Homo sapiens: one gene and its partner. Changing the gene in region 1 together with any one later gene gives a genetic interaction. Each region holds a gene or a part of one and is shown on either strand. Other genes may lie near its edges.

What was found.
Region 2: changes in ARMC6 (region 1) and SPPL3 together harm fitness less than expected from each alone (positive genetic interaction), as found in Homo sapiens cells (one large-scale study listed by BioGRID).

What each region holds. Positions count from the first base shown.
Region 1 is NC_000019.10:19,032,110-19,036,412, reverse strand, and holds the start of ARMC6 (armadillo repeat-containing protein 6), read right to left. Parts: upstream 2,811-4,303; 5' UTR 2,483-2,810; exon of another isoform or gene 2,400-2,482; intron 2,283-2,399; 5' UTR 2,204-2,282; coding exon 2,175-2,203; intron 1-2,174. Other genes in the region: SUGP2 (SURP and G-patch domain-containing protein 2), read left to right, coding at 2,894-2,924.
Region 2 is NC_000012.12:120,771,605-120,775,415, reverse strand, and holds part of SPPL3 (signal peptide peptidase-like 3), read left to right. Parts: intron 1-3,811.

The DNA of each region.
Region 1 (4,303 bases):
GCATATCCAGTTGCTCTCTCTGCCCTAACGTTTATGTAAAAATGCAGATTTGGCCTGGCTCCGTGGCTCATGCCTGTAATCCCAGCATTTTGGGAGGCTGACACCGGTGGATCACCTGAGGTCAGGAATTCGAGACCAGCCTGACCAACATGGCGAAACCCCGTCTCTACTAAAAATATAAAAATTAACTGGGCGTGGTAGTGGGCGCCTGTAATCCTAGCTACTCAGGAGGCTGAGGCAAGAGAATTGCTTGAACCCGGGAGGTGGAGGTTGCAGTGAGCCAAGATTGCGCCATTGCACTCCAGCCTGGGCGACAGAGCGAGACTCTATCTCAAAAAATAAAACAAAAAACAAGAAACAAAACCTCAGATTCATGAGTCGGACTGAGGCATAAATGACTATTCCTCTACCTGCCCTGTACCCCATATAAATCGTGTATTCTGTGAAAGGCTGACCAAAGACTCAAAAGAAAGCAATCATTTGTCTCTACCTGTGACCATCTTACACATATTCATTTATATCTCACGTCTCCCTAAAATGTATAAAAGCAAGCTGTGCCCCAACCACCTTGGGTACATGTTGTCAGGACCTCCTGAGGCTGTGTCACAGACATGTCCTTAACCTTGGCAAAATAAGCTTTCTAACTGATTGACACCTGTCTCAAATACTTCGGATTCTCAGTCCTCTGTGGAGCTTCTGCCAGCCCTTCCAGGTGGCTGCCTTTCCTGGCCACTCAGAGAGCCCACACTCTCTGGCTTCACTCCCCAACCCACAACCCCTCCCTTCCACCCACCCCTGAGCTGACTGAGTTGGGAAGGTCTGGCTCTGTGACCACCCCTGACCTGAGTCCTCCAAGGTCCCCTAGATCTGGTACAGGGCTGAGTTGGAGGAGGAAAGTACAGATTTGGAACACATAAGATGGTGCCTGGAGATGGCCAAGTAAGAATTACCTGGAGAACAGCCTAGGCTAAAAGGGGGAAGCAGCATTACCAGTCCCTATTATCCATCAGGGCATGCTGAGGGTAAAACAGAAGATGAGTAAGGCCCCTAACTGGCAGCCAGTTTCCTTCTCTCAGCCAGGAATCTGCTCATCAAGAAAACTGTGCTGTCCAGGTGCGGTGGCTCAGGCCTATAATCCCAGCGCTTTGGGAGTCTGAGGCGGGTAGATCACTTGAGGTCAGGAGTTTGAGAACAGCCTGGCCAACATAGCAAAATCCTGTCTCTACTGAAAATACAAAAAATTAGCCAGGGCCGGGCACGGTGGCTCACGCCTGTAATCCCAGCACTTTGGGAGGCCGAAGCGGGCGGATCATGAGGTCAGGAGATCAAGACCATCCTGGCTAACACGGTGAAACCCCGTCTCTACTAAAAAAATACAAAAAAACTAGCCGGGCGTGGTGGCGGGTGCCTGTATTTCCAGCTACTCGGGAGGCTGAGGCAGGAGAATGGCCTGAACCCAGGAGACGGAGCTTGCAGTGAGCTGAGATTGCGCCACTGCACTCCAGCCTGGGTGACAGAACGAGACTCCGTCTCAAAAAAAAAAAAAAAGGCCAGGCAAGATAGTGCACACCGGTAATCCCAGCTACTCAGGAGGCTGAGGCAGGAGATCGCTTGAACTCCTTTTGACTCCGTTTCAAAAAAAAAAAAAATACAAAATTTAGCCAGGTGCGGTGTTGCGCACCTGTAGTCCCAGCTACTCGGGAGGCTGAGGCAGGGGAAGCCCTTGAACCCGGGAGGTGGAGGTTGCAGTGAGTCAAGATCATGCCACTACACTCTAGCCTGGGCGACAGAGAAAGACTCCGTCTCAAAAGAAAATTAAACGTGTGCCATGACATGCTGGGGACTCTAAAAGACTCCATCCACATGTCCCTCTACCAGCCACACCCACTCTGGTTCAAACACCAGCCTCCCCTAAGGGCGGCGTCACCTGCCACTCCCAGAGCCTAGACTCCACCTCACTCACGTGCTCAAAGCCCGGTAGTGGCTTCCCAACCCTCTCAGAACAAAACCCAGCCTCCTTATCCGCACCTTCTCTATCTAAGCCTTCCAAGTTCCTCTTCCCCGCCTTTCTCATCCTTCCCAGCACTCAAGAGACAGCCTTCAAAACCACTTCTAGATAAAGAGCAGCCCTGCTTTCCCGTCCCATCACTCTGTTATTATTTGCACACCATTACCTGTATCTAGAGCAACATCGTTCACTCATTTATTTGTACCCTGTAGCCTCCTTGTCCCCACTGCCTAGGACGGGGCCCGACACGCAGCAGGCACTCAGTGCACAGGTGCTGAATGAATAAATAAAATGAATGAAAATAAAGCGAATGCCAGGGAAGCCGAGGATTTTGTCCCCAGGCGGCTTCTGTAAAATTCTTTCATTTTTTTTTTCCCCCCAAACCACGTACCCGAGGGTCGCGCCAGCCCGACCCTGCGGCACCCCCACTCCCCACTCCGCGCGGGACAGGCCTCGGCAGCCGCAGCGTCTCACCCGGTCTTCGCGGCCACGTGGGGAAAGGTGGGGCGCGCGGTTGTCACCCAGGGAGCCGCCTCTAGCCCCTTCCGGCCGCCGTACGCGCGCAGGCGCTGTGGCGCCCCTAGGCTTGGCCTCCCAGAGACTCGCGGACGCTCACGATAACCAAGGACGACCGCGAACCAAGGTAAAGCCAACGAGGCCACCTCGTGCGCGACGGAGGCGTCTTTGCCGCCCCTTCCGGGACGCTCACGGTGGTCGCCGCCCCCAGCAGGGAAATGTTTTGCCTCCAGAGCGTCCGCCCAGAAGAAGCGGACAGCGCGCTTGCGCAAGAGAGCCGGGCCGCGGCGGCCCGCGCCTGCGCACCAGGACTCGGCGGCGGCTTGCGCCTGCGCGGCGCGGCGCTGCGGAGACCGTTGGTTCATTTGCATGTCCCCGCCTCGCGCGGCGGCGGCGGCGGGTGAGGAGCCTGAGGCGGCGGCGGGGGTGGCTCCGCGCGCGGTGGTCTCGGGGTGAGGCCCGGGCCCTGGCGTCGTCGGTGGGTGGCTCCCGGGGTGGGAAGCTCGGGCTCGGCCTTGGGGGCCCGCCCCGGGCTCCGTGATGGCGTCGCAGGCTCGGCCCTCTGGCTGCGGCGGCGGCCGCGTCCCCGCCGGGTTGGCCTGGGTGGCCGGCTGCGGCCTCCCGGGCCCGGCGCCCCCATTTCCTCGCCCGCAGAGGCCGGGAGACGGCGGGCCGCGTCCACAAAGGCTCATTGGTTCAGTCGTTCATTCATTCCTCCCGAACTCGGAGCGGCCCCCGCTCGGGAGGAGATAACGGCGCCCAGCGCTGCATCGGGCCCTTGCCCTCTTTAGAACCGGTTCAGCCCCCACACCAGCCCCTTTACTGGCTGCCCATTCCATAGGTGGGGAAACGGAAGCACAGAAAGCTTAGAATCGTGTGATTTGAACCTGGGTCACCTGACCCGGGAACCCTGCCCTTTGCCAGCAGAGAACAAGGGGGCGCCCCGGGAAAAGGGCTGAAGGATGGGACTGGGGGAGGCGGGTGGGGGAGGCGGTGATCGTGATGGGAAATGGACCCTACGGGTTGTCTCTTGAAGTTGGAGGTTTTGCGAAGCGGGATATCTTGATGGTTAAGGATGCAGCCCCTGGACCCCAAAATGTTGCTTAATCTTTTTACTCATTCTTCGGGGCTTTGGATGCACGAATACCCTTTTTGCCAGGTTCAAATCTGGGCTGTCTGGTCTTGAATGGGTCGTTGAGTCTGTCTCCCTTTGCCTCCTCACCCTAATGTCATTCATAACAGGACCCGCCTCTTCAGTGGGTGGTTGGGAGATCGCGCAAGGACCCAGCGCAGAATGAACTGTCACTAGTTCATTGTCATTGGTTGGGGGTCCCGCCACTCACTGTCAAGAGGCTTCTTTTAGAAGGGAAGGAAGTTCTCAGAGCCTCTGTGCCCTGCTGAGTCTGTGAATGGGAAAAGAGTGATCCTGGGCCAGGCGCAGTGGCTCACGGCCTGGAATCCCAGCACTTTGGGAGGCCGAAGCGGGCGAATCACTTGAGGTCAGGAATTCAAGACCAGCCTGGCCAACATGGTGAAACTCCATCTCTACCTAAAATATAAAAATTAGTCGGATGCGGTGGCGGACTCCTGTAATCCCAGCTACTCAGGAGGCTGAGGCAGGAGAATTGCTTGAGTCCAGGAGGCGGAGGTTGCAGTTAGCCGAGATCATGCCACTGCACTCCAGCCTGGGCAACAGGGAGAGTCTCAAAAAAAGGAAGAAAAAAAAAAAAAAGATTGATCTCTTCTTTCCTAACCACGATTTGCGAGGGTTGTGGTCCC
Region 2 (3,811 bases), on another chromosome or scaffold:
CTTTGGGAGGCGAAGGTGGGCAGATCAGTTGAGGTCAGGAGTTGGAGACCAGCCTGGCCAACATGGTGAAACCCCATCTCTACTAAAAATAAAAAAATTAACCAAGGTGTGCTGGCATGCACCTGTAGTCCCAGCTACTTGGGAGGCTGAGGCAGGAGAATCACTTGAACCTGGAAGGCAGGGGTTGCAGTGAGCTGAGATTGCACCACTGCACTCCAACCTGGGCAACAGAGTGAGACTCTGCCTCTAAATAAATAAATAAATAAAATGCTACACTCTTGGTGCGCTGACTCCACATAGGGCATAGATATCTAGAGAGCCTGTATCGCGAATGTGAGCACTGCTTAGAAACCTTACAGGTTATGTCATCCTCGTAGAGAACATTTGAGCTCGGTTTGGTGTCACTGTCTTTGTCCCTGACTCACTGGTTGTAGAAGACAATGTAATACAGAGATATCAGTGATAAATTGAAAATAACTCTAGCTAAATGGCTAAGATTAATCATTTACTTCCCCCAACACTTTTGGTTAATGTACATTTAACCAAAAGTTAAGTGTGTTGGTAAACCTATAAGAGAGAGTCTCAGGAGTGTCTAAAGCCGCAAGGGAAAGAGAGCACCTCCCTTCACTTTAGCCTTGAAAAGCCCTGAGGAGGAGGTAAGATTTTTTAAGGGTTACTTGAATGACAGAATGAAAGGCAGGCAAACTAGATTGAGAGCATGTTCTGGGAATACGACATTGCTTGTGGCAGTGTTCGCTGGGTCAGAGTGGTATTTATTCCACATGCCTCTAAGAGCCTTCTCTGAGACAGTCAAAAGGATGCCTTCTGCCTCTTCATACACGGAACTTAGACTAGAGTGGGGAGGACCTAGATGGTCTAATTGGAAAGAGGGTGTTCAGCTTAACGCAGATGGAGAGAAGGGATAGGCTGAGGAATAGGAACCCGTTCAGACAGATGCCAAGGCAGAGCCAGCATGGTGCTCAGCTCCACTCTGTGGAGGTTGTGCCTCCTGAGTTTATGCAACTTTATAATTAGACTTGATTCGTCATAGAGAAGGGAACCTGGTGACCTTCAGGCAGGAAATTATGTGAACAGATGTTTGACAGTGGCAGTGAACAGTACATGGGAAAGAGTAAGAGGGAGGGAGGGAAAGGAGACACAGCAAAGTAGGAAGTGGGTGGAGGTGTGAGCAAGGTCTGCAGTAACAGTAAAGGATAACACCTCAGAATGGCTGCAGATTTCATGTGTATGATGAGAGGCTGTGATGTGTTGAAGATGAACCCAGACTTTCTTATTTGGAAGGTTAGGATAGAATGACACTGTCTGGAGTCATGGAAAACCCAGTCACTGAGCAGTCTGTTCCATGTTTAGTTTAGACGCAGGTGGAGGAGGATTAGCATGAGATGAATGACAAAGCAGCAGGTGGATGCTCAGACCTTGTGACCTTTCAAGGCTCCTGCGCAGTTAGGATGAAGTGATTCTATGGCAAATTGAGTACAAAAGTTCAGGAAGGGCCAGACGCGGCGGCCCATGCCTGTAATCCCAGCACTTCGGGAGGCTGAGGCAGGTGGATCACCTGAAGTTAGTAGTTCAAGACCAGCCTGACCAATATGGTGAAACCCCATCTCTATTAAAAATGCAAAAATTAGTTGGGCATGGTGGCGGGCGCTGGTAGTCACTTGAGAGTCACTTGAACCTGGGAGGCACAGGTTGCCGTGAGCCAAGCTTGTGCCACTGCACTCAGCGTGGGCGACAGAGCAAGACTCCATCTCCAAAAAGAAAAGGTCAGGAAGGGACAGGTCGTCTACATGTGTCACAGAGGCGAATAAACTTACCCCGAGGAGCCTGGCCTCTTGCTTCTCTGTTCAGTCTGTTTCCCTGCCCCGCTTTTGGTTACTGGTGAGCTGCATCATTCAGTCCTCTGACCCTCACTCCCCGCAGACTCCTGTCTCCCGTCTGTCCATCCTAGGCCTTCTGTTACTTTCTTCGTGCCCTTGATGCCTTGCATTCCATGTATTCACCTGTAAGTCCATGAACAGATCACCCTAGCCAGTATCTATACACAAACCTGTGTCTCACCTGTGCTCTGGCCCGATGGGCTTCCCACCTGCTGCTGACCACTGTTGTTCCTCCAGCCAGATGAGCTGCTCCCTGGTAATGTCCTGGTTATTGACTCATGACACAACCAAATCTTTGTTTCCTAAAGATGATGATCATGGGAGGTCCTGTCCTTTCAAATATGCGTGTGAGTTGATCAGAGCAGGGGCTCTGGGTACATCTCTCAGTGTCCTAAACATCATGTTTCAGTCATCCCTTTGCAGCTCTGAATGCTCTGAGCTTTGTCAAGCCTCACTGACTAATACATTTCATTAGGTTCATTTCAAATGACATGCATTTGTATACATTTTACCAGGTTGGTTGTATGAATTTATTTAAAAATTAAAGGAGACCTTAGTATAATAAACATTCTATATGATTATAAAGTCAGGAATTAGATCTTGACCACATCTCTCCAGAACTCACACTGCAGCTCACCCTGTAACTCAGTGAGCGCTTGATAACAGTGATGATAGTGGAGATGAAGATATATATTTTGCTCTTCCTAGGTTGAATACTGTCTTTCCAACTCCTCTGAGTTGTAGGGATGAGGCAGCTTTTTCTCCTCTGTGTTTATATTAGCACCGTGCACACAGTAGGAACCCATGAAACAGTAATTTAGTTGATGTGTCCAGGGTCTGCCAAGCTGCTGTATTTATCCACTTTATTACATATATTGACAATTTACCACCAGTTCTATGAAAATGAAATATATCTGTTCATATGGCTTTTTACTTTCCTTAGAATAATTTGAAATTTGAAGTTAATAGAACACAGTTTTGCATTCATTCAGCAAGTATTTATTGAATGTCTACTCTGTCAAGTGCTAGGGATCCACAGAAAGAATCAGACATGGTTTCTGTTTCCCAGGAGCACGTGGTCAGCTAGCACAGGGAATAAACTTACCAGTATGTAAATATTCACAAGGTCATAGAATGGATGAGTGAGTTGAGAGACATTCAACGTTCTATGGCACATCACATAGAAGAAGCAACTGGGCCGGGCGCGGTGGCTCATGCCTGTAATCCCAGCACTTTGGGAGGCCGGGGTGGGTGGATCACCTGAGGTCAGGAGTTTGAGACCAGCCTGACCAACATGGTGAAACCCTGTCTCTACTAAAAATGCAAAAATTAGCTGGGTGTGGTGATGGATGCCTGTAATCCCGGCTACTCGGGAGGCTGAGACAGGAGAATCACTTGAACCCAGGAGGTGGAAGCTGCAGTAAGCTGAGATTGCACCATTGTACTGCAGCCTGGGCAACGAGCAAAACTCTGTCTCAAAAAAACAAAAAAAGAGCAGCAGCAACTGACTGGTTGGATCAGGAAAGACTCTGAGAAAGGACTCCTGACCTGGCTCTTCCAGAATGAGGATGGATTTTCCATATGAAGGAGCCGGGGGCAGGACCTTCTGGGTAGAGCGTGAAAAGAACACAGTATGTGTGGAGAGCGGGAAATTGTGTTGAACTGTCTAGAAAACAGAGCCACAGGAATGCGTGTTGAGGGCTTGGGCTGTACAGTGGAGAGTGCCCTCCCTGGCCAGGGAGTTGGACATTCATCCCACCACAAGACCCCATGAAGAGTTTCTCAACAGCTCTGTGTCCTCATCAAACCTGTGTTTGCAGAACAGTGGAGGAAGAGAGCTGAAGGAGGGGAGAGGCCCTGCACCTGCCAGGCCCTGGCCTAGACTACAAGGGTGAGCACTGAGCCATGCTCTC